2 linked regions of the Homo sapiens genome follow. The protein of the gene in region 2 purifies or fractionates together with the protein of the main gene of each other region. This does not show direct contact. Each region holds a gene or a part of one and is shown on either strand. Other genes may lie near its edges.

Region 1 (15,438 bases), on a different chromosome or scaffold from region 2:
CTATTTAGATTTTTTTAATCAACGTTTTGATTAAAAAAAAAAAAAAGCCACACGTATTTTGCTTATTCGTCCATTTTTATGCCCAGAACCTTGAGCTAATCCAACACCTTTTGTTTGTTTTGGTTCTTACCCTCTCTGGGCTGAAGATGGGGAATAGTTTTGTTCTTTTTTTATGTTGTCAGAAGAAAGAGGTGGATGGTTTCCCTTCTTTGCGCCAAGATTGAACAAGGGCACCATTACAGATTAGCATCAGTCTGTAGGGGACTGTGGGAAGAAAGTTTGAGAAGCATTACCTAGAGATATAGGAATCTGATTTCAGGATACTATTATCAGTGAATGATCTCTTCCTAATGCCTTAAATGAAGACGGACTGTTCCTCTACCAACCTTAATGAGATCCTCCTATCTTATAAATCTGAATTCATTTCCTTATTTCTTGAGCTAAGTAAACCATGTTTATCTTGAAACAGTTCAGAGCAGTCCTCACTTTCTTAGATAGAATTCAACTTGGCAAACATTTATACAGAAGGCTTTTCCATGTAAAATCCAAATAATCAACCTGTAAGTGAACTTTTGGAGCACCAAGTCATTTCAGATCGTGAATTTCCTGTAGGAGACTAGGGAACCATGTGGCTCTGAAAATGAGTGTAGTTTTTTATGTCAGGTTCAAGATCTTGAAGCGCTCAAACAATATTCCAGGGATTTCCAGGGATGGCTGTGGCTGTCAATAGCGGATTGATTCCAGGGATAGATGTGGCTGTCAATAGCGGATTGTGCGTGACTGTTTCCATTGCACCGGCAGCTTCACGTTCCCCTGTCTGTTAACTAAGCTGCTCTTTATTAACAGTAGATTCCAAATACAGGGCCCTAGTCTCTGCAGAGTTCATTGTCTCAGAAGGAAACGAGCGATGGTATTGGTTGATGAGGGCTGTCAGGGTGCGTGAACTAATCACTGTGGGGGAGCAGAAGAAAGAGGCTTACACCCAGTGGGTGATGGATCAAGAAATGTCTCACCCACACTCCCACCCTTTTTTTACCCACTAGCTGAGTCTTGGAAGATGAAGAGGTGTTTTTGAGGCAGAGACAACTACAGGTTTCCTACAACATGAAATGGCAGGAGTTAGTGAAGGAGCGATGGGAAAGGCCAGCTCTTTGGGGCTAGGTGTAGGCTGTGGGTGGTAGAGTGGTGGGCAGGGACATGGAGGGAAGGTCTGCGTGCCAGGCTTTGTGTGGTTGCTGTCCAGAGCTATTGGTGACATTTCGGCAGGACAGTAGCCTGATGGGATGTGTGTTTTGGAAGATCAGCCCAGCGGTGTTGCTGCTGCAGAGGGTGGCTAGAGTTGGTCAAGTACCGGTACCTAGCTAGAGCTGGACAGGACCGGTACCTGTTGAGGGACGCTTGGGTAGCATTTATCAAGAAGTCTAAAATGCAGCTCTCTTGAGGTCTGGCAATTGCTCTAGAATTTTTTCCAAAGGAATTTTAAAGGTGTGCTTAAATGTGTACATATGAAGTGGAAATTTCAGGTATTTTAGGTGTCCTGCTTTAGGAGATAAGGACCAAAATTGACTTAACTGATTCATCCATACTGTGGTCTGCATCTCTAACAAGTAAAAATGGTGTGGCTGAAATACTTTTATTGACATGAGGAGAGGTTCAGAATATACTTAAGTGAAAGTAAACTGTAAAACAGTATGGCCAGTACAAAGCCCTTCTGTGTTTAAAGTAAAACAAAAGTGTATGTTTGTGTAGCATAGAAAAGGAAACATCAAAGGATGTACTCACTGTGATGCCAAGTGATCTTTTATATTCTTCTTAGCTCTTTTCTATATATTCTGGTTTTTCTACAGTAAGCAGTTATTTTGTAATAAAGCTACAGTAAAACCACAAAAAGATGTCAGCTCTAAGAGAAACTGCATTCCATTTTGAGCACGTTAGGCTGCTGGTGTGGAGGTCCGCTAGGCACAGAGCTGCAGCCCGTTCTCGTTTCAGTCAGTTACCATTAATTCTGTCCTGAAGTGACAGAATTAGCTTAGCACACATTTACTTGGTTAGTGTCACAACCGTTTTCCTCAGTTACTGTAACTTCACGCTTCCAGGTGACATTGGGGAGGATCTGGTGGCAGCATTTTCAGTGCAGGGGCCTCAGCTTTTGTATCTTAATGTAAATACTCAGTGCTTCCACCTGTTGTTGAGGCCTTTTTGGCTTCTGGTTCCGGATGGCATTGGGTGAACAAGAAAACCTAGCTACAGTTTACAAGCATAAAAGCTGTCCATCTTCTCACCTGAATTCAGTGTCATCTCTGAAGCATTTATAGCTGCAGCATTTTTTCTGTAGACAAATACATTTTCTGGATGATTACAAATAAGGTCCAGTCTGCTCTGATGTGGTGTCAAGTTGATGCCTGTAAACCAAAAGCCTGAGGATTATTGACTGTAGGTGTTGAGGCCATTGAAATTGTGGTTTTCTAGGTGGACCATAGGCGCAAAGACTGTTACACTTTGCTCGGCGTGTTTGGTAACTGATGGCAGTGTCTGCAGGTAATTGGGCACAATTTAGAGGCGCACACGGATCCAGACACAGAATGTGGCCTCAGAAGCTAACACTGGAATCAAGTTGTCTGGCCTTCAGTTAAATCCAGCCCAAGCACTGCAAAGTTGTCCTTGACCGGCAGGTTTTGTCCAGGTTTTCAAGTCGCCAAGCCATGCATGCTGGGAGTGGGTCTGAAAGTGGTTGAAGTGTGTGTAAGGCTGGTCTCCTTATCCACGATGACTGTTTGTTCAGCCTTAGCAGTGTCCGTGAGCCTGGAAAAGTGATGTGGGTGACCACCTGGGAGGCGCGTGTGTGGGATGGAAAGCCAGTGTGGAGGCTGTGGGGCCAGGGTGGCTGGTGACTGTGTTTAGGTGGGCTTTATAGAGGACGGTGCCTCAGTTCAGGGAGACGGTGATTTGCAAAGTGGTCGGCCAGAACAAGTTCAGGGTGGTTTAATTGTTTGCATTAAACGATACTGATTTTTGGTTCATGTGGATCATTAAGTATTAGTCGCATATTTATACTTTTAAGGATACAGCAGCGATATGCAAATTATGAAAGGAGCTCTCCAACACTTTCAAGCTTTGGAAATGTCTCATGAGATCAGAATTCGTCTTCTGTCATTTACACTCCAAATTTTAATTGTGATGTTTCAAAAGTGGCCTATTTGTGGTCTCTGTTCCCATTGTTTGCCGTGAACCTGGGCTCAAAGGGCGGGCTCCTCGTAGCTCTTAATACCTTGGAATGCCGTCTGGGCTTGTGCCCAGGCCATTGTTGAAGTGGGAGGCTGTAATCCCCCCTGCCAACAGCTTAATTAAGAAAAAAAAGGGCTCTTTACTGCTTGCTTTCCCCTCAAGTCTATTTTTTAGGATGGACAGTAAGGAGTATAATTTGGTTTTTCTTTTAAAATAATTTTCCCACCATTCACAGCCTCTGTTACATTTTCCCACCTCCTTTCAAAAAGGGTTTGAGATTGGACAGGTCATAAGGACGTGCACGATGAGACAGTTAAAGGTTTTGAAAGAGGAAACCACATACCCGGAAACCACATGCACAGAAGTGGGAAACTGCAGCTGAATGCATTTGCTGCAGAGCTTTTGGGACCAAGGCAGAAGATGGAGATGAGGGATTGAACAGTGTTTGCAACATCCTGCCAGAGGGGATTCCTTCCGGCCGAGGAGAGGCCCGTGGCATCACTTGGTGGCCTTGAAAGACCCCTCCCTTTTCTGAAGGCTGTGGCTCTGGCTGGCAGCATAGAGTGGTGCCCTCCGTGTACTCTCTTGGAGGATGAACTTGGACTGCTGCTCCATCACACTGTACTTCCTGTAAGGATACCTCCATCATTGACCTTGGGAGAAGTTTCCCTCAGGCCTTAGTATGTTTTTACACTTAACCCTGAACAGTAGGACACAGTCTCGTGACTTCTCATGGCTGCCTGCTGAAAAGTTTGTAGCTGAATTTGGGCCCACCACTAGCACATCCGTAGGTCACGTGATGGCAGGTAGGTCTCAGCACAAGAGCACTTTGCAGTTGAAGTGGTGGCTCCTGAGAGTGCTCTCACTGAGTCAGGGTTTGCCCTGGGCAGGGCAGCCTCCACCAGGATTTGCCTTTCGTTCCTTGCGTAAGGGTTTCCTACTCTTACTTTTCTTTGGTCTCATTTTCTTGCTGATTTTTCTCATCCTGTATGATTTTGGTTAAGTTGTCTTAAATCCCTTCTGTAACAGGGGAGAATGTAAATACAGCTGGCCCTGCTATCTGCTACATCTGTGGATTCCACCATCCATGGATTGAAAATATTTGGGGGGAAAAACAATAGAAAATAACAATAATAAAAACAATACAAGTAAATACAATATAGTATAACGACTATTTACATAGCATTTACATTGTATTAGGTATTATGAGTAATCTAGAGACTATTTAAAGTATACAGGAGGGTATGTGAAGGTTTAAGCAAATACTGCACCATTTTATATCAGGGACTAAAGCGTCTGTGGATTTTGGGGTCCTGGGATCATTCCCTCTTGGATGATAAGGAACAGCTGTATATACCCTTAATTCCTATTATCCATCAGTTCTACAGAGAGAAAAACCCATATCCTCCCTTCTTTAACTTCCAAGATGATTTTATCATGAGTCCTTTTAAACTGACTGCCGTGTAGCCATCAGACAGCACATGTAATAGTGATTTTGGGGAACTCACAGAAAATCTCCCCACCTTTTTAATGGTAACTAGTAGAATAACTATTAAAGCTTAAAAATCACAATTGAAACGACTCAATCTTACTCCATTTTTCTTTCAGTTTTTCTTGTTGGATAAAAAAATTTTATTACAAAAGTAAAAATTCTCTGTTGTTACATGTTTTGATTTCTTTGGTTGCTTGTTAGCCTCAAAGCTTTTGCCCAGTTAAAACTTTTTTTCCAGCTCTAAATATACCTGTTGCAGAAAACTTAGAAAATTTAGAAAACACAAGGAAGACTATTGGCCGGGCGCAATGGCTTCCGCCGGTAATCCCAGCCCTTTGGGAGGCCGAGGTGGGCGGATCACAAGGTCAGGAGTTCGAGACCAGCCTGACCAACATGGTGAAACCCTGTCTCAACTATAAGTACAAAAATTAGCTGGGCGTGGTGGCAGGTGCCTGTAATCCCAGCTACTCGGGAGGCTGAGGCAGGAGAATCGTTTGAACCTGGGAGACGGAGGTTGCAGTGAAATCACGCTGTTGCACTCCAGCCTGGGCGACAGGGCCAGACTCCGTCTCAGAAAACAAAAAAAAAGACTATTAAATCCTTTCTGGTTTTCCCATCCAAAAATAACCACGGTGAATACTTTGGGGGTGGAGTTGTACGTTATTTTATTTTTGTATATGTACTTTTGTTCCCTTGGTAAGCCACATCACAAGTATATACTGTTGCCTGCTTTTTAAGCTTACCCGTATATTATGAATATTTACCTAGGACAAGAGTCATGCTATAGATGCAGTTTTGTACAGAAGTGTATTTTATGTAGTTTTTCTTAAAACAACACTGAATGGAAATGGAGACTATGATATTAACCCATTTATGCCTAGAGTTCCATTATTGGAACGCTAAGCTTGTGGGAGTTATTTATATCCCGCTCAAGGTTATCACCAAAGTCTGATTTTTTTTCCACACAAAAAAATCGCAACCTCTGACATAAATGGGTTAAGTCCTAACCAGCAAAGGCATTCCTTAGCTAAGCTAATACTGGTCCAGCTGAATTACTTAACTGTGATTTGACTCAGTGTAGGAATAGCGTTTAGAAACCTAGAGTGATGGAGGATTCACTTGGCACTCTCAAGTTTCAGCTGTCTTATCTGGGCTTGAGCAAGGGTTGGACATCAGTTCATTGAAAATGAGCTTTTTCTGGCAAGGCCTCTGCAAACGTTTTGTCATTTCAATTAAGTGAGAGTTCTTTGCTCCCGGTAACAAATGTGTTGATGGCAAAGCTGACGTTTGCTTATGAAAATGAAGGAACTGGACTTGTTGATATTGCAGAAGAGGGGACAGCTTGCTTCTTTGGGAGCATTCCCTTCAATTATTTGAAATTATTAATGCATCCCCTCCTCCTCCTCAGGATGGTGGTGAATCACGATTTATGTTCCTGAACTCGTTCACTTTGTGGAGCTCTTCAAGTTAAAGGACCCTAATTGAAAAGATTATAATTTCTTAAGATTGGAGGGTTTACAAAGACTTGACATTGAGAGATTTCCCTCAAACCAACCACCAGTCATTTAGAACAGAAAAGGACAACATGAGGTTTTTCCCTGAGTTACCTAAAAAGGAACAGATAATAATTGGGTGGAGTTACCATAAAACTGTAGGGTTGAGGTTAGACTGTTTTTAAAATTAATTGGTTTCTCTTCTTGGGCAAATTACACCATTTCAGTCATAGTTGAGACATTAATTGCGTCTGTGCTGGTTGTACTGCTGGGGCCTCTTTCACTGTGTTCTTCCTGGTGGGGTACACGGGAAGCAGGGCCAAACTATAATGAAGCTTCATCCTCAGTCTAGTAGGGAAGTTTCTCGTGCTCTACCGCGAAATGCTCGTGAAATTTGCAGTTAGGCCTCTTTCCTGTAACATTGTCTGAAGTTGATAGTAAAAGAGGATTTCAGTACATAGCTTGAGGCTCAGGTTTTAAGAAGCATTTTCCACATTACCTTTGCTCCGTGTGCTCCTGAGACTGACTAGTCCACGTGGAGCCCACACTTTCCTGTTCTTTCACTACCTTATTTGATTTGCAAACTCTTGTCTTCCTTAATAATAAGTCATACTTACATAGTGCCAGGCAGGCTTCTAAGCTGTTTACAGAGAGCTCATTTAACCCTCACAACAACCCCCGTTTACAGATAAGGAAACTGAGGCACAGAGTAACTTGTCCCAAGTGGAGCTGGAGTTCTCGCCCCCATGGCCTGATTCCAGAGCCAGCTCTTGCGGTGATGCTGTAGATTCGCCTCCTTAGTTGGTTGTTCTTTGAAGGCAGGAATTGTCTCGCCCACCCCATCTCCCAAATAACATTACAGTGTTTTAGTATTTTCATGGCTTCCTAGGTTGAAAATTTCTCAAAGTACAAGATAGAAATGATTTCTGACCTTTTGCAAACACGTGTGGCACCATTAAGTTACTTATTGTACATGAGTGGGCAGTATTCAGTGCACACATTTAGTGACCTCTATTATGTGCCAAGCACTGAAATTATTTACATTTTCAAAGAATTGTTGCGACTGCCAAATGAAAAACATTTCTCTATAAAGAGAGCATTATCAGGGGCTCCTCGACTTGAATGGGGGGTCATTGCACTATAATTTTGTCCTTACTAACTTCCCAAGGCTGGAGGAGTTCTGAGAAGTTATCTCCCCTCCATATGTCACCGCATCAGAAGACTCTGTATAGCTTGTCACACATTCACACATTGTCGCATTTGCAAAAGGACTTGTCCCTTTGTAGGTGGGATTGGTTTTTCTTTAAATTAATTTCCACATCTCTACGTTTATTCTACATCCTTTTTCTTCAGGAGCATATCCTTTGTGAAAATGAAGTGCAGTACCTAGAACAGTATCTGTTAATAACCGTGGAATGAATGTCTGGGCTGAATTTGTTTTTTGTTGTTATTCTTGTTCTTTGTTAATGAGTTATTTAAGTGGCGTAAGAATACAGGTCCATTTTAAATCCATAGGCACTAAGGGAAAACATTAACAACACCATCTTATATCCATTCTGTGATTTTGACATCTCAGAAATTAGGATGCATTTTATAGTTACCGGCGTCATGGGATTATGATTGGCAGTATTTTTTAAATTTGTTGATAGATAAAACAATGGTGCATCTTCCAGTTAACATCCTAAATGTGATGAAAAAATGTATATATTTAATCCTTGCACTTTTTGAGAGGCGTGTTGGCAGAAAGTCGAATTCCATTGAATTTTGCCTCTACTTGAAAGAGATACATTCGAAGTTGTTTTGTATTCCTCATATTTGGGTTTGGAAGAGAAATAAAAGCCAGTCATTTGTTTTCCAAGTGCTTCATTGTAAGTTCTTTTTAAAATTACAAAAGTAAATATTTAGAATCTCAGTTTTGCAAGATGAAAAAAGTTCTGGAAATGGATGGTGCCGATGGTTTCACAACACTGAATGCTGCTGAACTTTACATTTAGAAATGGTTAAGATGGTAAGTTTTATGTTATGTATATTTTATCACAATTTTTTTTAAAAAAAACAATATGATACTTATGCAGTTGTCCTTCAATATAGAGATGCATAGAATAAAAAGTGAAAGTCACCTTTGTCCACACACATTCCAGCTCCTCCCAATTTTCCTCCTTGTGTACCTCTTCCGCAGAGATTTGGTGTGTATCTTTTCAGATATTTCTCTCCTAAGACTTTCCCTTAAAGATGTGTGGGGGTTTCATTGATCCTTCAAGTAATTTTTCACTATAATAAATACACTTGTAACAGGTAAAATAAAAAATATTTGAAAGAACATCATTTGATAACTGCTTTTTTTATTTTAAGATTAAATTTACTATTTTATTTATTCTCCACGATACATTTTTCTTGGAAGTAGTCTGTATGAATGAATTATTATAGCCAAACAACTTTAGATCTGAATACAGAACGTGAAGAAAGTAGGAGGGAAAGTGCGATATGATAGCCTTCAATTAGCTGCTCAGCAGAAGCAGCCTTTACGTGGTTTCCTCGCAGTTGACCACTCATCTTCCCTCTGTCGATGGGCAACCGTTGTCTCTTACACCCTTTACGTGGTTTCCTCGCAGTTGACCACTCATCTTCCCTCTGTCGACGGGCAACCGTTGTCTCTTAAACCCTTTATGTGGTTTCCTCGCAATTGACCACTCATCTTCCCTCTGTTGATGGGCAACCGTTGTCTCTTAAACCCGGGTCTGGGCTGCTGCAGTAGTTTACTCAGTGGTCTTCCTGTGTCCACTCTGGCTTCCTTCGGCCTTCTTCTCCATTCCTAGGGAGTTCAAAATGTGTGGGCCTTAATCTTGTCTTCTGCCGCATTCCCTCTAGAGGCTTCCTGTGGCTCTTGCAACATAGAGGCCTGCATCTCTAGTGTACTCTGCCAGGCCTTGCACATTTGCCTCTGTTTTTTTTTTTTTTTTTTTTTTTTTTAGATGGAGTCTTGCTCTTTTGTCCAGGCTGGAGTGCAGTGGTGCGATCTCGGCTCATTGCAACCTCTGCCTCCCGGGTTCAAGCAATTCTTCTGCCTCAGCCTCCTGAGTAGCTGGGATTACAGGCACACGCCACCATGCCTGGCTAAATTTTGTATTTTTTTTTTTAGTAGAGATGGGGTTTCACCATGTTGGCCAGGCTGGTCTTGAACTCCTGACCTTGTGATCTGCCTGCCTCGGCCTCCTAAAGTGCTGGGATTACAGGCATGAGCCACTGCCCCCGGCCACATTTGCCTCTATATTAGTCTGTTCTCACACTGCTGATAAAGACATACCAAAATAGGTAATTTATAAAGAAACAGAGGGGTTTTTAAAATTATTTTATTTATTTATTTTTTTGAGACAGAGTCTTGCTCTGTCTCCCAGGCTGGAGTGCAGTGGCACGATCTCGGCTCGCTGCAAGCTTCGCCTTCCGGGTTCATGCCATTCTCCCGCCTTAGCCTCGCTAGTAGCTGGGACTACAGGCGCCCGCCAGCACGCACGGCTAATTTTGTTTTTGTATTTTTAGTAGAGACGGGGTTTCACCGTGTTAGACAGGATGGTCTCAATCTCCTGACCTCATGATCCGCCCGCCTCGGCCTCCCAAAGTACAGGGATTACAGGCTTGAGCCACCATGCCCGGCCCAGAAACAGAGGTTTAATGGACTCACAGTTCCACATAGCTGGGGAGGCCTCACAATCATGGTGGAAAGTGAAAGGCACGTCTTACTTGGTGGCAGACAAGAGAGAATGAGAGCCAAGCAAAAAGGGAAACCCCTTGTAAAACTATGAGATCTCATGAGACTCACTCCTGACCATGAGAACAGTGTGGGGGAAGCTGCCCCCGTGATCCACTTACCTTCCCCTGGGTCCCTCCCGCAACATGTGGGAACTGTGGGAGCTATCATTCAAGATGAGATTTGGGTGGGGACACAGCCAAACCGTATCAGCCTTCTTCCTCGCCTCATGACAGCGCTCTCGTGCCCTGCATTCCTTGATGTTTACCCTGTTTCAGGGGAAGGCTCCCTGTTCTGTTGGTTCAGCTCATGTCCTGTGCTCTGCCCTTTGGGAGTACTTCTCTTAGTTCATAATAATATATACATTAGTCTCATTATTCTGGTAAGTGTCTGTCTCTCCTGATGTCCTCTCTGTGAGTTGGGGATCACGTTTTTGTTCACCACCACATCCCTTTAGCTTAGCACATACTTGGCACTTGGTTCAAAGAAAATTTTTTGAGTGAACCATTTGATTTTGTTTTTTGTTTTATAGAGTTGAGAAGTTCTTAGGTAGGGAGTTGATAGTATCACAAAATTAATCTGTATACCCAGACCTTGGTCCCCTGGCAGTTTGGTTTTCAGCCATAACTAAAACTTAGTTATCCCAGAACAGTTTTAACACTTCTTCATTTTTTGTTGGGGTTCTTTTGAAAGTTAATTTAGACTTTGCAATACGCGGTAACCTGGGCTTTCGTTAAGAGGAACCAAGCAGGCCAAGTAGCTTTTTATCATTCCATTGAACACGGCGATACAAGATGAGCAGATAACGTGAATTCCTGAAAATCAGCTTGGAATAAACTGTTCTCTAACTGATATTTATTTTAATTCCAGAACATGGTCCAAGACAATTCCTGGGAAAGTTCAGTTCTTCTCAAGTGAGGGTTCTGACACATCTGTACCAATTCCAGTAGTGCCACTACGGGGTGTGGACGACTCCTACCCGCCCCAGAAGAAGTCCTTCATGATGCTCAAGTACATGCACGACCACTACTTGGACAAGTATGAATGGTTTATGAGAGCAGATGATGACGTGTACATCAAAGGAGACCGTCTGGAGAACTTCCTGAGGAGTTTGAACAGCAGCGAGCCCCTCTTTCTTGGGCAGACAGGCCTGGGCACCACGGAAGAAATGGGAAAACTGGCCCTGGAGCCTGGTGAGAACTTCTGCATGGGGGGGCCTGGCGTGATCATGAGCCGGGAGGTGCTTCGGAGAATGGTGCCGCACATTGGCAAGTGTCTCCGGGAGATGTACACCACCCATGAGGACGTGGAGGTGGGAAGGTGTGTCCGGAGGTTTGCAGGGGTGCAGTGTGTCTGGTCTTATGAGGTAAGAACAGAATTCTTTACCATGGGAAAAACTTAATTTTGTCAATTTTGTCATTAGTTCTGAGCGTATCATAGGAAACTAGAGATGATATCCTCTTTGAGGGTTGAAGTTGGTATTATTCTACATTTTTAGCCTTAGATTAAAAAAAAAATTCAGTTCCCCTTTATTACCTTTTCTTGGCTTTGAGCGCATATCTTCTGTACTTTTTCTCCCCCCAGAGAGAGTCTTGCTCTGTCTCCCAGGCTGGAGTGCAGTGGCGCCATCTCGGCTCACTTTAACCTCCGCCTCCTGGGTTCAAGCAATTCTCCTGCCTCAGCCTCCCGAGTAGCTAGGATTATAGGCAGGCGCCACCACGCTAGGCTAATTTCTGTATTCTTAGTAGAGACGAGGTTTCACCATGCTGGCCAGGCTGGTCTCGAACTCTTGACCTTGTGATCTGCCTGCCTCAGCCTCCCAAAATGCTGGGATTACAGGCGTGAGCCACGGCGCCCGGCTCTTCCATACTTTTGTCCTAATACTTAGTTAATAAATAATGGCATTTGGGGCCTAAAGAAAAGATAATGGGTTGCTGATGGTCATGGTGATATTTTCTTGATTATCCAGAAAATCATCTTGTCTGACTTCTGCTGATTCCACAGATGTAATTGCAAGAATGTAGGATATCTCCCTATTTGTTTTTGCAAAGGCCTGGCTCTTCTCTTCTGGTCATAATGACCTACACAGATTAGAAACTTAACGTGTTTTGAATTTATAAAAGGAATCATGGTATAAAAAAGCCAATAGCATTTGACTTCGCATTTGTTGTGTACCTTGACTGTTCAGATAGTTACTTTAATCTGTGAGTTTATAATATAGTTGTTGCTTTCAGAATAGTTGTCGTGCAACTTCTGAGTTACCGTGACACATAAATGAAATTTGCCGAAGGAAGTCCGCTTGTAGATGTTTTCTCTGTAGCAGTTGTAGAGAAGATGGACTGGCTTTGGACTTTCCTGTGTTGTTGCTGCACCCTTTGCCTGCAGATTGCACAATCTGATACCAGTTAATGGTGAAAAAAATTATTGAGGTTGTATTGTCTTTAGGTTGATAAACTCCTGGCAGTTGTGAGGAGCAGAGGTAATTGCTAGATCTTTTGCCCAAGAAAAAGAATACACTTTCTAATATGAACTGTTAGCTTTTTTCTGAACTAATGTTCTAAAGCACGTACTTGAGTGAAAGAGCAGTATTCTTGCCTGTACTTGTCCACCCCTAGACTTGCTTTTAAATGTCTGCTAATCACTCTTACTTTTTTTGTTGTTTGAACTTTAGGGAAGTGGACATTTTCAAGCATACAGGGAGTGGCCATGTAATTTTTAATTACAAAGTCACAAAGATACATTTTAAATCCTAAATGTGATCTTGAGTGAACTCTTCAATCCCTGTGTGCCTTATACTATCCCCCCAACCCCAGCACATAGGGGACAGCTCACTGGGCCTACGGGATCTCTCTGTCGTCACGGATTTTTGCAGCGAGGAAAGCTGTTTGAGGGTTTCACGCTGTTTTAAGCAGAATACAGCTGGCAATATTTCTGCATTTTTCCCCATCCTAAGAAAGTAGTTATAACCTTGACACATTTCATTATGGTTAAAATAGGTAACACATTGTATATTTTGGAACACTTTCCCCTGACCATCATCTCCGAGAAGCCAACCTTCTTGCCGGAATCATAGAGGACAGACCTTCTTTCGGGAGAGAATTTTTAAAAGTATGTCTTAGTTAGGTCGTGCTGTTATATACTGCTGGACAGACACCAACAGAGCCAGTCTCTTGAGTTTGATCAAGAACTTGGGTTTAGCGTTAGTGCCAAGAGGTAGTTAGAAAGTGTCATCCTGGGGCTGCAGGGTGGGAGGCCATTTTGGAGATGATTTTCCTCTGACGGGAGGTAATCACAAAAGGTTTCTGATGGCCTGCGAAGGGGTGCATGGAATGATCCTGTCTGGACACTTGGAGCCCCCTCTGAGGCTTGGTGCATCCTGTCAGTGGCCTCATCAGCTGAAGGGACCTGGTTGGTGAGGAGGCCTCCTCCCCGTGTGGTCCCGTCTCCCTGCCTTGGGAGGTGGGTCAGGGACAGCAGCAGCAAGGCTCTCCTTGGGAGTGTGGTTATTGGGCCTGCTGCTGCTCTGCGTTTCTTTAAATGCCCTGTGGTGTCAGAGCTTTGACTGACTGCTGCAGGCTTCTCCTGGGCTTGTGCCACAGGGCCCTCCCACCTGCAGTGCCCAGAGCTCTCTTTTTCTCTTCTGTGAGCTGCCTTGCCTGTTCGTAGTCTTGGCCCGTATTTCTGCTGAAATGTTGTCTTACAGTTTTGTTGAAGTGCTTTATTCTGGATAGAGTATCTTTTCTCAGACTGTGACTTAACTTTTCACCTTAATTGTGGGATTTTTATTGTACGCAAATTGTGAATCTAAGTGCAATCTAATGCATCATTCTTTTCCATTACGGTTTGTGCTTTTGTGTTTAAGAAATTCTTCCCTTCCTTAGGTCACGAATATGTTTTCTCCTGTATGTTTTCTTACATGTTTGAAGTGTTCCCTTTCACGTGTAGTTCTTCATTATAATGTTAAGAATTCATCTATTGGAACACTTGCCATCTTATTAGACCTTTGATTTCTATTTTTTTATTTTTCTTTTTATAAAGCTTTAAGTGCTTCTAACCTAAGTTGTTATTAGGTTTATCATTGTGTTCACCACTCAGGTAAGATTAATCCTTCGTGTGGATGAGGAACTTTTATTAAACTTCCTGTAAATCTAGTTTCCCCATTAAGGTTCACATTATGGGAAATTATTGAGGTGGAGTCTTATGTTAAAGACAATTACGTTAAGCTTTGGGACTTGGAAGGTACTTATTTTGCCCTATTATAAGCCTAGCCAGAAGGTATAGTGTTTTTTTTGGCGAGTAGAAATAGTACCTTGGGATGACACTTAGGTAATTAAAATGACTTGTGAGGAACAACTGTCAAAATCAAAGTCTAGATTCATTTCTAAACTTGTTTTGATAATTATTGGTGGTTATTAAAAAATAGCCTTGAGAACTTTGTTTGGAAATAATGTTAAACTCACAGAGAAGTCAGAGGATAGTGAGAGTGTAGGCCTGGAGGCTGGGGAAGAGCTGGGAGGAGCTCAGCTCCTGGCTCCCCTTGCCACATGGTGTCAGCAATATTGACTCAACTCAGGTGAGGTGTTTTTGAGAATTATTATTGAAAATTTTGAAATAGGAATTCATTTTATCAAGGCAAATACATGAAAAGCTATACTACTCTTAAGAGGGAACAAAAAGAAAATTGACTTAAGTAACCTATTCATTTTGTCTTTGACTTTTGCTTCGACGTGTACTGTACGTATGGAAAAGTGCATAGGTCGCAAGGGTCAAGCCCAGTGGATTTTCACAGACTGCACGCAGGCAACCAGTAGATCTTTCTTCTATTATTTTCTCATATTTGACTAGGGGTGAAGCTGTAGACAGTAATGATTATTGATGAAATTTGGAGATAGGCAAAGGTGGATTTGACAGCTTTAAAATATTAATTGTTTTTAATAGCCAATACTGTCACGTGGCTCAAAATTCAGAAGTGCAAAGGGCTTATAGGAATACGTCTTCCTTCCTCTGCCTCCGGCCCCTGGGCTTCCGCTGTGAATTAGCCATCATGGTGCCTCAGGTTTCCTGCGTATCATATCATATACAAACAATTAAGTTTCTACTTCTCTCCCCGTTTACATGAATGGTAGCGTAATACCTACCATCTATGTCTTGGAAGATTTCCCATTTGGTAAATAAAAGAACTTCGTCTTTTTGATGGACGTTCGGGCTATTTCCAGTTCTTTCGGCAGTGTTTCTAGGCGGTCATTTAGCCCAAGGCTCCCCAATCTTTTTCACATCTTGACATTGACTCAATTCACTCACGCTGAGGAGCCTGCCTCCAAGGGCTGCTGTTACCCCAATCCCTAGCTCCTGTCCCCTCCACCACCCCTACAGCCCCATACCACTCTAGGCCTGGAAGGATTGTTATCTGGGCACACATGGAACTTGTTCATGTTACACCCGCACACCAAAATACACCAGTTATGAAGCTCTGAGTTAGCCAG
Region 2 (15,438 bases):
TTCATAGATTTGTATTTTCAAAAACAAACAATTAATCCTGAATCTGATTAATCCTCTAAATTCCAAAAGAAAATGAAGAAATTGTGAATCTGTAGTGTAAAGGAGAGTTAAGAGATGTTTTAGCTGGGTGCTGTGGCTCTTGCCTCTAATTCCAGAACTTTTGGAATCTCAGACAGGTGGATTGCTTGAGCCTCTGAGTTCAAGACCAGCCTGGGCAACATAGCAAGACCCCATCTTTACAAAAAATTAGCTGAGCATGGTGGCACAAGCCTGTAGTCCCATCTACTCGGGAAGGAGGATCCCCTGAGCCTGGGGAGGTTGAGGCTACAGTGAGCTGTGATCATGCCACTGCACTCCAGCCTAGGCAACAGGGGGAGATCCTGTCAAAAAAAAAAAAAAAAAAAAAAACCAAAAAACAGAAGCTATTTTTAAAAAAAGCAATGTATGTACTTCATCTGGATCCTGACTCATATAAATAAGCTATAAACTATGGCTATTTTATTTGAGAGCTTTATTTTTCAGAGAAACATACTGGTAAGTGTATTGTTAGATAAAATCATATATCTGGAATTTGCTTCAAAATGATATGGAAGTGGGTGGAGATAGAAAAATAACGGCATTAGTTGACACTGGTTGAAGCTCTGTGGTGGGTACCCAATGGGGTCATTTTATTCTGCAGAATTTTCATATTTAAACATGCTCCTATAATAACATTTTTTTATAAGACTGTTATGTGAATTTCAATTCTGGTTCCTCTTCTTTATCTTTAAGATTAGAAGACATATTGAGGCCGGGCGCGGTGACTCACGCCTGTAATCCCAGCACTTTGGGAAGCCGAGGCGGGTGGATCACGAGATCAGGAGATCGAGACCATCCTGGCTAACACGGTGAAACCCCGTCTCTACTGAAAAATACAAAAAATTAGCCGGGCGTGGTGGTGGGTGCCTGTAGTCCCAGCTACTCAGGAGGCTGAGGCAGGAGAATGGCGTGAACCCGGGAGGCGGAGCTTGCAGTGAGCCGAGATCGCGCCACTGCACTCCAGCCTGGGTGACAGAGCAAGACTCTGTCTAAAAAAAAAAAAAAAAGAAAAAGAAAATTAGAAGACATATTGTTTAAACCCTCTGTCCTCAGTTTTCTTAAGTCTTTCACAGAATTTTTGTGAGAATTCAATAAGCTATGCTACAAAATAATCTCCTACCATAGTGCATAGCAGCGTCTCAAGTATTGCTACCTATGATTATTATTAATAAGCAAAATAGAGGGTGTTGCTCTCATTATCCTTCTGAATAATCTTTCTGATTATTCATCTGTAACTCTTTCTTTTCTGTACAATTACTATGCATATTATCCTAGAGGCTGAAATCTGTTTTTCAGGTATGTCAAGCACAAGGTGTTCATCTAAAGATCTTGGTCCTGAAATGTTTTTGTCTTGACAGTTATTTCCTGGTCTTTCTGCATTCATCATTGTTCCCATGAAGTTCAGGGCCTTTGGGGTGCTTGTCTACCAAGTTCAGGGCTTTTGGATAAGCCTTCAGTTTAGGAAGCACATGATCCCCAATGAGTAATTAGACTCCTCAAAAACTGCTCCTGGTCAATTTAACCCTATTTTAATGGTAGCAAATGCTACACTCTTTTGCAAATCTATAAAATATTACTCTTTGTTTGTACATCATTAGAGTCAGAATGGCTCGGGTTAAAATCAACTTGGCTGTTAAGGAGAGATGACCGGAATCTGTAAGTTAGCATTCCTCAGGCTCCATTTCCTCATCTGAAAACACCAAGCCGGAAGTAAATTGTGGTAGAAATACACGAGGACCAGAGATTATTTTTGATAATTGCAAAAAGCTTATTTGAACTAAACCTAATCTTCAAAAAATATAAAAACAGATAGTATTCTATGAAACAGTTATCCTACCTTAATTTTTTTAACTTTTAAATAAACAAATTTAAATTCTGCCTTTAAGCCTATGATTGTATTAATTGTATGTGATTTTTAACTAAATAATTCCTATTGATACTGATGAATTTTATGGTTATTCATAAAATGATATAAAAAGTAAAATGTTAGCATTTTAAATTATATGTATCAATTAGCCAGGTTCAATTTATGTCCAAAAAATGTTCCATAATGAAAACAAAGTCATTAAGGTACGACTTAATACTTTTCTCACAATCTTAAGTAGAAGAATTAAGTAACTATGAAGTTAATTTGTAAATTAATTTAATTATAATTATTTAACATCTTAATGTAGTTTGTAATCATTAAATAATGACCTTCATGGGGGACATGTAATATCTGTGGGCTTTCTCTACATAATACATAATTATGCTCAAACTTCTCATTAGAAATGTATATAAATGTAAGTAAATATGTAGATGATTATATTTTTCAAAGATGGCATACATTAAATTTTCTATCCTGCATGCTCTTCTACAATATGCATTTATCCCAATACCATTAGGAGGTAGCATCTAATTCCTCTCTCTTCCCTTTGAATTCAGGATGGCCTTGTGATGCCTCTAGGAATCAATAGCCTGAAACACCATAACATTTGAGACTAGGTCAGAAAAGGTTGTACAGCTGCTACCCAATTCTGGGATGCTTGCTCTGGGACAGCCAGGGGCCATAGGAAAAAAGAGAGGCTGTCTGAGGCAATCCAGAGGATACAACAGCCAAGCTTGTGGGCGACAGCAGCAGCAACTGTCAGTTATGAGAGTGAACAGGTGTCCAGCCCAGGCTAGCCTTCTTAAGATTATAAATCCCGGGTAACATTTGACTACAAATGCAAGAGTGACCCCAAGTGAGAACAGCCCTTCAGAGCCCTTCCCAAATTTTCCATACCTCAAGTTGTGAGCAAATTAAATTTTTTTTTAAGCCACCATGTTTTGGGGTAAAATTCACTCAGCTGTAGTAACAGGAGCATAGTGGTTTCCTACATTTATTTTTCATTGAGCAGCCTTATTTAACATAATTCTAAATTTTCCACTAAAACACACTATTTTCAAGGTAGCCTGGATTAGACATTTGCTCTCCCAGTTTTTGTAAGGAGGTTTATCTTCTTTAAAATCAAGTTATTTATTAAAGCAAATAAGATACTACTTAAGATATTACCAAAAAAATCATTTCTGAATAAAGACTAGTAAGAAATAGACTTCTTTTTTTTTTTATTTCCCTTCTTTTGGTTATCCCAATGATGAATAGTATTGTTATGCTAGAAAATGTCAGCAATCTGGTAAACATCATGTTGGACAAAGGCCAGGTTGTCTTAAAACATCATGCTTTTTTTCTGCCATGTGGCAGGAGTCCAAATTCTAAGATTTATTCTTATTGACTTTCAACAATTTTTTTTTATAATTCTGTATTCAACTTCATAATTGGGACATTGGTGGTGTACTTCAGTTTTTGGGCAAATGACCAAAATAATATTTAGGAGCTCCAGCCCCACCAAAAACTTTTCTGCTCAAGGCAAGCATGTTCCCCTTTTTCCATCTTAAAAATGGCAATCTGACTGCGTTATCAGTTAGACCAGGCTTCATACATAGATGATTCTTCTCTTTAATTCTATTCTCTTTCCAGTCAAACTCAAGGAATTTCTAAGCTTCCTGGTTTTACAGTTGTCCTTAAAGGGAAGGAGCAAGGATGCACTGAGAAATCACTTTTGTTTCTCAATCAGGCATGTTCCCTTCTCTTTGCAGCTTGCTAGAGTCAAGAATATTGTAGAATATTCATCCAAGCATTAATTCAAGAACCAAGCCATGCATATGTTCGTGTATTCATTCATCAATCGTTCAGTGATGTGTAAAGAGTCTACAAAGTATAAGGCAGTTTGTTGTGTAGAGGTTGTACGAAGATAAATTATTGCAATACTTCTTTTCTAGTGAAAAAAAATAAAATAGATATATAAAAAGATAAAAGATATTGTATAATCACAGATATGTATATATAATTGATTATTATAGAATAATCAAAGCAAATGTAGATTACAGTAAAAAAGGCAGAAGTAGGCAAGCTACAGAAGTTAAAGCAGTCCACAGACTAAGTCAAGAGTAACTGAGTCTTTACTGTTACAGTATATATGCTAAGGGCTTTCTCTTTTTATTAAGACTGAATTGCAGACTCATTTTTTTTTTAATTTTTGAGGAACTATGTAATCTTTTTCCACTCTTTTGAAGGAGAAAAGTTAAGATTAGAGGGTCTCATGGTTTTCCTCTTTTACCCAGGGAATTGATATTTTAGCTAACCAATTCCCACCATATCCCCTGGAGCTAGGGATGTTCTTCCAAAGGAAAATGAATCACAGCTGCAATCTCACAAAATGCCTTGATCCCACACAGCTGCCTCTCTCTCCCTCCTGGGGACCAAGAAGGAAACAAGGGCTATGTTAGTTGTCATTCAGGTCAGGGAGACAGACGCTCCCTTTGACCTTCTTGACTCCCTCTCTTCCTCCTCTCCATCTTTAACCCCTGGATTCAGGAGACTTGTTTAACCAGGTCACATTGAGCATTACTCTTGCTTCATCTGAAGATCACCCATACTCCACTCCTACCCAATGTCAATTTAGGCAATCCAGTGGTCATACTCTGTGCACAGCCTCCTTCCCATATCATGTTTTGGAAACACCCTTTTGGTGCATTCGAAACTCTGAATGAGGAGCACCTCACACCCCTGCTGCTGCAGAGCCAGACATAAATGATAAAGGCAACTGAGCCTCTAGCATTCTGTCTGTTCCTCTACAAAATAGTCCTAATTTATTTTTCTGGGTTGATTTCATGGGAGAAGTCTAATGGTTCATTTACCTCTTGTATAAGGTCTGCTTCTGGAAAACCAGTTTCTCCAGCCAAGCGAGAAGCTGTAGTACAATATGTCCCAAGTGGTAACTTCTGACAAAATTTTTCACCAGTTCAAGAAAAATGATTATGAAGAAGAAGCAACTACATAATTTAAAAGGTTGTACTTTTTCTGATATTTTTAAAAATTAAAACATTATTTGCATTATAAGGTACATTATTAGAAACCAGTAGTTATTTGCAATGCTTCTATATGGCAAAATTAAATGTGTTTCATCTTCTGGCACCATTTCTAGAGGGCTAAGTGTGTGGGGGTATGAATCACTTATGATTATAAAATAGCCAAATACTTCATTGTTCTCAAATCAAACAAACTCATTTTGTTCAAAGGAATATTGGTTTGGAGAACATTCAATTGCCTAGTAAATGCACAATTTTTTTTGTTCTTGTCTATTTACATTTGGAGATGATGTGGTCCTCTTTAGAGAGGTGGAGAGAGATGGTACTATTTTGTGTCTAGCTTGACAACCCATATACTTATTAGAGACTCTTAATAAGTCTCTAATAAGACTCTAAATAAGTCTCTAATAAGTATATGGCTTATTTTCAATGAGTATAATATGATATAATATGAATTGAGAATAATAAGTATAAGTCATTGAGAGTCTCTAATAAGTATATGGCCTATACCTATTATTCTCATTAATACATAAAAATAAAAGGAAATATCAGAAACAGCCTCATGTTCTTAGCCAACTTTGCCTGAAATGGTAAGTGAAATGTAAGTTACTATAATAAACATTTGTGCATATATTTTTCTATTCTTACCCAGTGAAATAAGATATATTTCCATTTATCAAATGAGGAAACAAAGTTTTGAAAGTTTCAAGGTTACAGGTAGTAAACAGCAAAGCAGAATTTGAGATCAGAGGTGTTTAACTGCACAGCCCAAGTTCTTTCCACTATTAAATAGTTTTAAGAGGCATTTTAACTCTTCTGAAATTTGTTTATAAGAAATACATCAAGAATTATTATTTTAATTTTGGAGACTAGTCAAAAGACAATACTTGTTCTTATTTGACTTGTCAGGACTGATTTGCATTTCAGTAATGAGGTGTTAAGTCCATACCAAATTATACTACCTGGTGACACTTGATCCAAAGATGAATGGCTAAGCCAAAGAGTACCTAAGTAAGGGAAGCTGTCTTCTTCAGGATGCCAAGCATATAAAATAGAAAATCCCATCAAAATCAGAACGTTTTAAATTTTTTTGATTTTTAGAAGAATGAGTTACATTGTGGATTTATTATTATAAAGTAACTGAAAGACTTCTGAATTTGCTAACTCTACATTTATTTTTAACATTGCTTTTTGAAATAAATGCTATAATTAAGAGGGAACTGGTTTATTTCTTAACATGATAGATAAAAGAAGACAAGATATGGGTCTCATAAAATTGTGGTTCCAATTACAAGGTAAGTTGCAACAAGTTCAATGAAACAACTTGGCCAATATCTATGAGGAATTCATGTTTACTGTCTCAATCCCTCATCCTCTTAAAAAAAAAAAAAAGCACGTGTTAATACTACTGTGATAAATTAGAATTAGGGACTAAAACAGTCCATGCATTTTTCCAGAGGCATCAAATTATCCTGCAGAGTAATTACATAATTTTAATTTCATAGGTTTTTACTTCTTAGCTTTGAAAGAATTGTTTAAAATTTTGATGTTGTTTAACTTTGCCAAGAATATTTCTTAGTGGTAAAAAGTAGTCAAACATTTTAATTTAAAAAGTTTATTTGTATTAAACATTATTTCGATAATAAGATGACAAAGGACTTTTGTCCTTCAACATTGTAGCTTCTCTCTGCTCATTAAGTGTCTGCCAAGGATAATCCACCAAGGATAATCCTGAAGACAGTGTTAGTCTTTGATACAGATAAGCATTAACATTTGCCATCCCCAACTGCATTGCATTTATTTTCTTTATTATAATAATTCAAGCTTCATGCTTAGATCACTAGAGGACATAAAACAAATTAAAAAATCAACTATACTGCATTTACAATGAATGAGGTGGTGCATTTCTCCTGCTTTCTTTCTTTTTTTCTTCATCTGTTACTGCATATAATCATCATATAATTTTAACACTGCATGAAGCTGCTACTATGACCCAGGTACCTCACACGATTAATAGGATTTCTAAGACTGTGATTTTTCTGCAGATGGAGATGTCAAGGCTCTCAACAGCTTGCCAGCATCATAAAGTAAGGAAGAGTTAGATAATAGTTAAAAACATGAAATGAGTTCATTTGTTTTATTTAAAGTCAAGTGAATTTCATTTCCCTTTAAGAAATGTATTTTCTTAGAGATAGCTGATTAAAACTTTTATAATATATTTAAATATTCATCTGTAAATTTTAAAATATTGAAAATACCTTGCATGAGACCACTGCTCATTGGAACTTACTTAGTTCCCTTAGTTAAATATGGTTTTAAAAACAAATTATTTTTATAATTTTAGCTACTTCCTTAGTATATGAGTCAGTAAACCTAGCTATAATAAAGGAATGATGTACACTTTGAGCTCCTAGAAAAAAGATAACATGTAGAAAACTTTCTCATCTGAAAACAAAAAATAAACAAAACAATATCAATGGCAACAACAAAACTGTCATAAAGATCCCAAGTCAGTGAACTTGCTGCTTCCTAAGACTACATTTTGTTGTTGTTGTTGTTGTTTCACTTTGAACAATTGACTTATGCCTTTTTACATAACAGAGAATTGGAAAACTGGCCCAGTGCTTTCATCAGGGTCAAGGTTTATGAGCTATTTTTTCATGGAAGCAAAGGCAAACTATATTTACGAAAAAATAAAACTTCACTAAAGTGACTGGCCAACTCTTCTTTCCTTAAAAATATCAACCCTTCATTTTTGATAATACATGTAGCGAGAGTAATAATAAATTCTTTTAACTTTTTCTCAGAGGCAAAGTGAAATTTAATTCGCATTACATTTTTTGGGAACTTCGCCATTTTAGTAACTTCAGAAAAGATTATCCTGTGTATATCCATCAAATGGTGATTTCTTTGTTCAGATTTTTTTCAACCCTGTTATTTTCCTGCCCAAGGCAATAATGCAGGTCATCTCTAGATGCTTATAAAATTTCTGAAGAGTAATCCAATCTCCCCTGTGGCAAATACACAATTCAAAAAGTAATAGTCACCACCACTAGAACATAAGATCCACAAGAACTAGGGCCATATTTGTCTTCCTCATCCTTTCTCCCCATGCCTAGAGCAGAGCTCATCCATGATGGGTTCCCGATATAGCTTCTGAATGACTGAACAAATAGATCCATTGGAATTATCCTGCGGCCTTTTGAAAGTCTTCATATAACATTTGTATTTGGGTTTTAAATAGCTATACAATATATGTGTTGAAGAAGCTATTTCAAGTGTTTTTCAGTCGTTACTACTGAATATACTTTATATTTTTTCTGGGTTCCTATAGGCAGTTTATTCCAATTGTAGAAGTTGCATTTTTCTTCTGCAAACTACTGCTAGAAAGCATGTTCTGAGTAAATATAGGACTTCTGAAAGAAGTGCCTGATCATAGTATGGAATTTCTTCCAGAAGGAAGTACACATGGCGGAATCATGATATAAAGATTTTTTTTTCTTTTCATCTCCAGTAAGAAAATACACCCCTTCAAAAGGAGGAATGTGAATGAGCTGCCATGTAAACTGAGTTCATTCCCCTTTGGCCCATCCACTGAGCTTCAATCTTTCTGGAGATTTATCTTCTAAGTGTAATGCTCTTGGAATTTCCAGACCAAATTTTTCTGAAAAGATGATAAATCAAACTGTCTTTAGGGTGTTAGGCTAAAGATATATGTAACACAATTATATTGAATATTTACACCATACCTTAGTGATAAATATTTCCTTTGAAACTTTCTAAAGAATATAAGCAGCTGGATTACAAAATGTCAAAAGTAAAGACAAAACTAAGACTCAGAGATTAAGGGAGTATTTTGATACTTGAAAGATAAGATTTTGTCATAAAATTTGATGTGTTTTGCTTTTGATAACTGATTATTTTACAATTTAGTAATGTTGAAACTCTGTTGTCTGGGCTAAGTGAATAGTAGAGAGACTGACCTGATTTTCTTAATATCTAATATTTTATAAAAGCATATTATAGAATTAAGATTAAACCATTACTCTGAAATTTTAGAACATAAGACTTTTTTAATTCAAAATTTTATTTTGTAGAAGAAGGGATATAAAGCTCAGAAATATTTTTAAAAATGATTTGTCCAAGATTGCAAAGTAATGGAGGAAAAAAGGAAGAGGGACAGAGAGGGAGAGAGAGAGAGAAAGAGAGAACAACAACGCTACTTTTCTTTCTATCCTGTTCTGCTTCCTTTACTCCTCATTAGGTGGCACTGTCTCTCAAATTTAGAGAGATTAAAACTGAAAATGCTAAACTCTCAGAGTTGCCATTCCCAAGAATAAAACAAGTAAGGTAGGTAAAGAGAAACTGCATCCCACTCACCCAAATCAGAACACTGGACCACTCGAAGATGGCATTGACAGCGGAAGGGGCACACTGGGCCTAGGGAGGGCTCGAAGTCGCGGTCATCAGGAACTTCTGGGCCTATCCCAGAAGCCTCATCTTCTAGCATAAAGTCAAATAAGCCTCTCTGTTGAAACGGTCCAGCCCAGGAAACTTGTGCAAGCAGAAGGAGGATGATAGTGGCCTTCATGATTTATCTCATGTATTTTCACAACCAGGGAACCTAGGAAACAAATGAGAGATTTAAGAAGAGTAGCACTGCCTAATCTGTGTGTCGTTTCTTATATAATATGCCACAATACAGTGAGCACAGAGAAAAGATGCAAAATAATATTTCATTTGTTATCAGGAAGCAGAGCATTAAAAATGTATTGAAAGACAATCAGGTACATTATAGTATCATTTGCACAGCTATTTACTTAGGATGAGAAATCTGAGTATTATTTAAATCTGCTTGTTTGAATTTTGGGTCTAAACTAAGATGATATACTATATATCCAAATCATTTGCAAAATTGTCATGGTAATAAATCATGTTGGGCTTTTCAATGCTCACTTAACACATGGTCAGATAAAATTATCTCTATCCACATAGGAGATCTCCAATTTCTGCTTCAGAAATATCTCTGGAAGCCAGTCACATCTCTCCATCCTACCACAATTATTTTGATCCAGGCCCTTCTCATCTCTCCCTAAACTACTACAAGAGCTTCTAATTCATCTCTGCCTTGCATATTTCCTCTATTTCAGTCCATCTTCCATTTTGCTGCCTGAGTCATCGTCTAAAAATTCAATTTTGTCTTATTAATTTCTACTATAAACCATTTATTAACTTCCTATGGCTTATCAATACTGTCCACAGTCCCTGTGCTGTATGTCAGACCACTCATAAATTGGTATGAATTAATAGCTCTAGCCACATTCCTTTTCATTGTCACTCCATTCCCAGTCCTCACCTGAACCCTGACAATCAAAGCTACTTGCCATGTAGAATACCGACCTTGCAAGAGAGTTGTAAAGATTAAATGAGATAGTGGGCTTCTCTTCTGTGTCCCCTGGCTCATCCAGGCAAGATGCTGCTTTCTCCCTCTTCTCTGCTCCCAAAGCACGTTGCTCTTACCTCTTTTAAAGAACTTATCACATTATATTGCAATTTGTTTTGCGTGCTTGGTCTGTCCCTCACTAGACGATGTACTCCTTCAGGGCGTGTCTTATTATTCCTTGTTCTGTACCCGGGCCTTGCACAATATTTTGCACACAAATGACTCAATTGACCATCACTTTATTGACAAGACGATTTATTCCATTTGTTCCAAGCAATCAGTCTGATTTTTTAAAACACAAAATTAGCTTTTTTTCAGTATCGAATTTCTGATATAAAAAAAGCAGATTGAAAACCTCAACTTGGTATAAGCAAGATCGGCTTTAAAAAATAAATCAATTTCCTAGTTTCTCAAACATTATGTTTAATAAGCTAATAAACACATATGGAAAATTCTGATTTTTATGTGATGTATATATGATCTCATTTTGCTAACAGGGCATTTTGTAAAAAAACAAGTATTGTTTTGATAAATGTATTCCATATTTATCCATTCATTCCACAAGCACGAATCTATGTTGTTAAATCAACTGAAGTGCACTAAATAAATCTGAGTGACAAAATCGTAATAAATCTGAATAACAAAAGTACTTGATTATATAGCAGCAAAGTCATTTGGGAGATGAAATATTTTTTAAATTGCATTGAAACCATTCTGATATCTCCAAAACATAGTAGATATTTAGTCCCATCATAGCAGATATTTAGTCCCATCATCTCTACCTTGAATTGTACACTTAGACGAATCCATATTAAAGCTGTACGTTCGTAAGTAGAATCTTACAGCTGTTTTGAGTCATTATCCAATTGTAGCATATTAAAAAAAAGAAGAAAGAAAGAAGGAAGGAAGAAAGAAAGAAAGAAGGAAGAAAGAAAAGGAAAGAAAGAAAGAGAAAAAGAAAGAAAGGAAGAAAGTGAAAGAAAGAGAGAGAGAGAGAGAAAGAAAGAAGAGAAGAGAAAAGAAAGATCTTTGTATGATCTAACCTTAAGGTATCTTCTGGGAATTTTTGCCTAGATTCTCTAGAGAAGAAACAAATGTTTTTCAGTTTCTTACATGTTTGTTCTTAGTTTATATTTACTACTGATATGTGTCTAAGGCAGCACATGTTGAATACAGGCTTGTGGCTTTTCATTTAACAAAATATCATAAAGATTATTATTCACACTGCCACTTTAAGTTCAACATTAAGCTTCTTCTAGCAGCCCACTCTCATTCAGTTACTGAGTATCCCTTTAAGAGAAGACTTTTGTTTTGGCAGCCTGTTCCTTTGGATTGTATCTGAGGGAGTGGTTTTGTATCTGTTTCCCATTAAAAATGCAATGTTTATGGTTTACCACAAGCTTGCTAGCCTTGCATATTTAATGTCTTACAAGTTTAAAAGAAAAATGAAGCAAAGTCATTGCAGATTTAATAAATAGCAACGACAGTTAATGCAGATGTCACTTTGAAATCTTTTCTCCAGAGCAGAACATGCCTGGTTGTTTCACTAACAACCCACAAAAAGAAAATGTTGAGTATTAGCTGAGAGAAATAGTATTATAATTTATGTTTGTTTACTCCTGTTAAAATGGTACAAATTCTCCAAACAATATTCTTTTTGATTGAAGCTGAATATAGACAGGCAGCTTATAACTTCAATCACCGACCTTTATTTCATTTTCATTTGCTCGTGTGTGTGTGTGTGTGAGAGAGAGAGAATGTATGTGTGTGTGTTCATGTGTGTGTGACAGAGAGAGAGTGTATGTGTGTGTGTGCATTTAACCCTGACTGTACTGTGAAAAAATAATTGCATGTCCAGAAACTTTGTGCAAAATCTTCCATAAAATCATCTGTTTTAAATTAGTGTCATGGTACTTCAAGACCCAGCATCTTAAAACATTTAATGTGGGCTGTCAATACTGATAATTCCTTTCGTCATTTCCTTCTTTCCTTAATTAATCAGAAATATAAAGAGCAAAGAGCAGCTGTCCAAGTAGTAACCAAAGAGATTGTTATTGAGATGATATGCTGTTTAAATTATACTGAAACTGTTTTAAGTAGTCTAAAAATGCATGACAATGTCCAAGATGCTAATTACTAATGTAATATCACTACTCCACTGAAGCTAGTTGCCATAGTTTACAAATGTTTTACCAAAAATAATAATTTCTGGTTCCTAAAACTAGTTAAGCCCATTAAATGAAGTATGTCATCCAGATCAACATTTGCATTATGTTATCTATGCCTCTGGTGTCACTTTCAAAGTCAAAATTTAACCCTCAAGAGATAAGTGAAGCTATAAATGCAAAACAAAATTAAAATCCTACAGCACTAGATGATTAAAAACTTCAATTATAATATATGTAATTTTAAAATAAAGAATAAAGGCGGCATTTATCCACAAACAAGGGTTACTATAGGAGGCATTTGGCTCTTTTCTGGTTAGAAACAGCAACAGGAAAAAAAAAAGCCACAGGTATTTACATCACTGGGAGCCCACTTAATCAGTGGTCACTGTGTTACCCTGTTTTAAAATTAGAAAATTAACCCACATCCTCATTTTATAGTGAATGTATCTTAAAATTTCACTTGCAGTGAAGATACTGACTGGGACACTTTACATTTAAGAAATTATACAGCGTTTTTAGTATCTTAGGCATTTAATAACATAAATATTTTCAATGTTTATTTTCACTTCTCTGGTGATAATTTCTGTTCATTTCTGGGGTTGAAGAAATATACATTAGGTATTTTCAGCTAATCACCAGAGTTCAGTTCTTCTGGGCTTTTAAAAGTCCTTAAAGCAATCAAAAATTCAGGAGAAAAATACATTTTTTAAATATATAGGTCAATTACAGATATGCTACTTCAGAATACTTTTCGGTTACCATCTCTTGAAGAGCTAAACATTCATTAATACAAACACAAAAACATTAATATAGAGAGTCATGGTGTTAGGTTACAGTTTTTTAAGAAGCATCTTTGCAAAAACAGAAGAGAAAGAAATAAAACAATGCATTCAATCATTTTATCAAATATTTAACTTCTGTTTTCAAATAATACTTGTTTAAAATGTTGCATAAAAACTATAAAAGTTTAACAGTTTTTTTTTTCCTTTTCTTTTTCTCACCAAATAATCCCTTTTGCTCGCAACTTGACCGAAGTTTTATTAGTCTGTAGCAGAGTTCAGGACAATTATTGAAAACCATACCTTTTAATCCGGGAATTTGCCACAGGAGCCCTCAAAGCTGAGATGTAATTACACTAAATATTCAGCCCAAGTAAAAGAGTTTGCAGGTGTGGAAAGGAGGAGGGGGTAGGTGCTGCTCTGTGACTAGGTTGAAAACCTCCTGCTTCTACTCCATAGCACAGTTAAAAAATAAGGTTTCCCTCAATGAACACAATCCGGCTGACACCCACATTAGATCATATGGTAATGATATGTCTCTTGTATTGTAGCCAGAAACTTTATCGGCCTTTTTTTTCCTCCCATTTGCTTTATTCTTTTTGCATCTGCTTAAGATTCTAAACTGCTTATGCAGTATAGTGGAGCAACTTGATTTGAAATTTGTCTTATTGTAGATTCATTTCCCTAAGATATTGTAACTAAAGGGTTTGTTTCCCCACCCCCCATCTCATTTCATTCTCCACCCTTTCTAGCCTTGTTTACAAGTAGCATTTATTATACTTCCAAAATGACATTTTTTTCTTGCTTTTGGGATGTGTAAGTCCAGAAAAATGGAATGAAATTAATCTTGTAGTTGTTTTAAATGTGGACTGCAAAAATAAATGAGTAGCCTTATGTGAAACTACTCATTCGGATTCCTACTTGCCTTGGAATGTTTGTGTAAATTCAAGCACTATGCTGTGGAGTTTTTCTGTATATTTTGGACATATTTCTAAAGTGTCCTGAAAGAAAGTCATGGTTTTATATGAAAAGTATGTCATCTATCACTTTCATTAATCATAGTTTAAAATCTTTCTCCCTGTCCACCAGTTTTTAAATAAAATACATAGATAACCTGTAGTTGATCACAACATAGTTTCATCCTCTATATATGAAAAATTTGATTTTCATAGATTATACTTTTATGTAAACTAGAACTTTGAAAAGGCAATAGAGTCTATGTGTCTTTCCAAATTTCAGTAAATGAAAAGAAAAACAAGTGCAACTACAAGGAAAGGTATTTATTTAGCCACTGGAAATCTTTTTTGAGCTTTTATAATTCCCTTGCTGGATGCTGTTAGTTGTCTCTGTGTAGGTCTCTGTGTTTTGACTTGTATCATTATGCTCTGGCCCCTAGGCTGTTACCAGGTGGAAACTGGAAATCAACAGTTTGAAACATGAGATGATCCCCCTCCCATCCTCCAGCCTCCTTCCTTCCCTCCTCCAGCCATCAAAGTATATTCTTCCACAGTAAATATTCTTTTTCCTCAAAAAAACTTAGAGAAATTAAATTCTCAAGTGGTATCTAAGGAGGGGGAGGCGTGTTACCACGTTATAGTTTGCCTTATTTCCTAAGCCCAGCCTCTCAGATAAACAATTTACCCTACTCTGCATCTCCTTAACATTTAATAACCACATATCTAGTTATTCTGATAGTTTAGACAAAGGCAAGCACTATTGTCCCTGGACATTGGTGCAAAAGTCCATGATCCCCTTTACTTGGAATTTATTAATTTCCTTTCTGAACTCTCCTTATATGGCATTTATCTCTTTTTGATGACATATAATCACTCCTGCCTCATATTATAATTATTTATGTACGTGTCTTACTCCAAGGGAGGAATGACATTGTGTTCATGTTTGTAGAATCCCTGCACCCAGAATAGCCATGGTATATACTAAGTTACCAAGATACATTTGCTAAATTAGTAAAGACAATCAAATGATTGGCTATGGACCGTACCCGGACTGGTGTTTTGCCCCAATCCTGGCTTACTGTTTATCAAAACTTAACCCTACTAAAGTGTATATGACAAATTAT

What was found.
Region 1: the proteins of DCN (region 2) and CHSY1 purify together in Homo sapiens (affinity purification with mass spectrometry; 4 studies listed by BioGRID and IntAct, with this or other methods). This does not show direct contact.

What each region holds. Positions count from the first base shown.
Region 1 is NC_000015.10:101,230,965-101,246,402, reverse strand, and holds part of CHSY1 (chondroitin sulfate synthase 1), read left to right. Parts: intron 1-10,825; coding exon 10,826-11,321; intron 11,322-15,438. UniProt on the Homo sapiens protein: Has both beta-1,3-glucuronic acid and beta-1,4-N-acetylgalactosamine transferase activity. Transfers glucuronic acid (GlcUA) from UDP-GlcUA and N-acetylgalactosamine (GalNAc) from UDP-GalNAc to the non-reducing end of the elongating chondroitin polymer.
Region 2 is NC_000012.12:91,168,994-91,184,431, forward strand, and holds the start of DCN (decorin isoform a preproprotein), read right to left. Parts: upstream 13,825-15,438; 5' UTR 13,662-13,824; intron 10,487-13,661; exon of another isoform or gene 10,369-10,486; intron 9,654-10,368; exon of another isoform or gene 9,593-9,653; 5' UTR 9,560-9,592; coding exon 9,349-9,559; intron 1-9,348. UniProt on the Homo sapiens protein: May affect the rate of fibrils formation.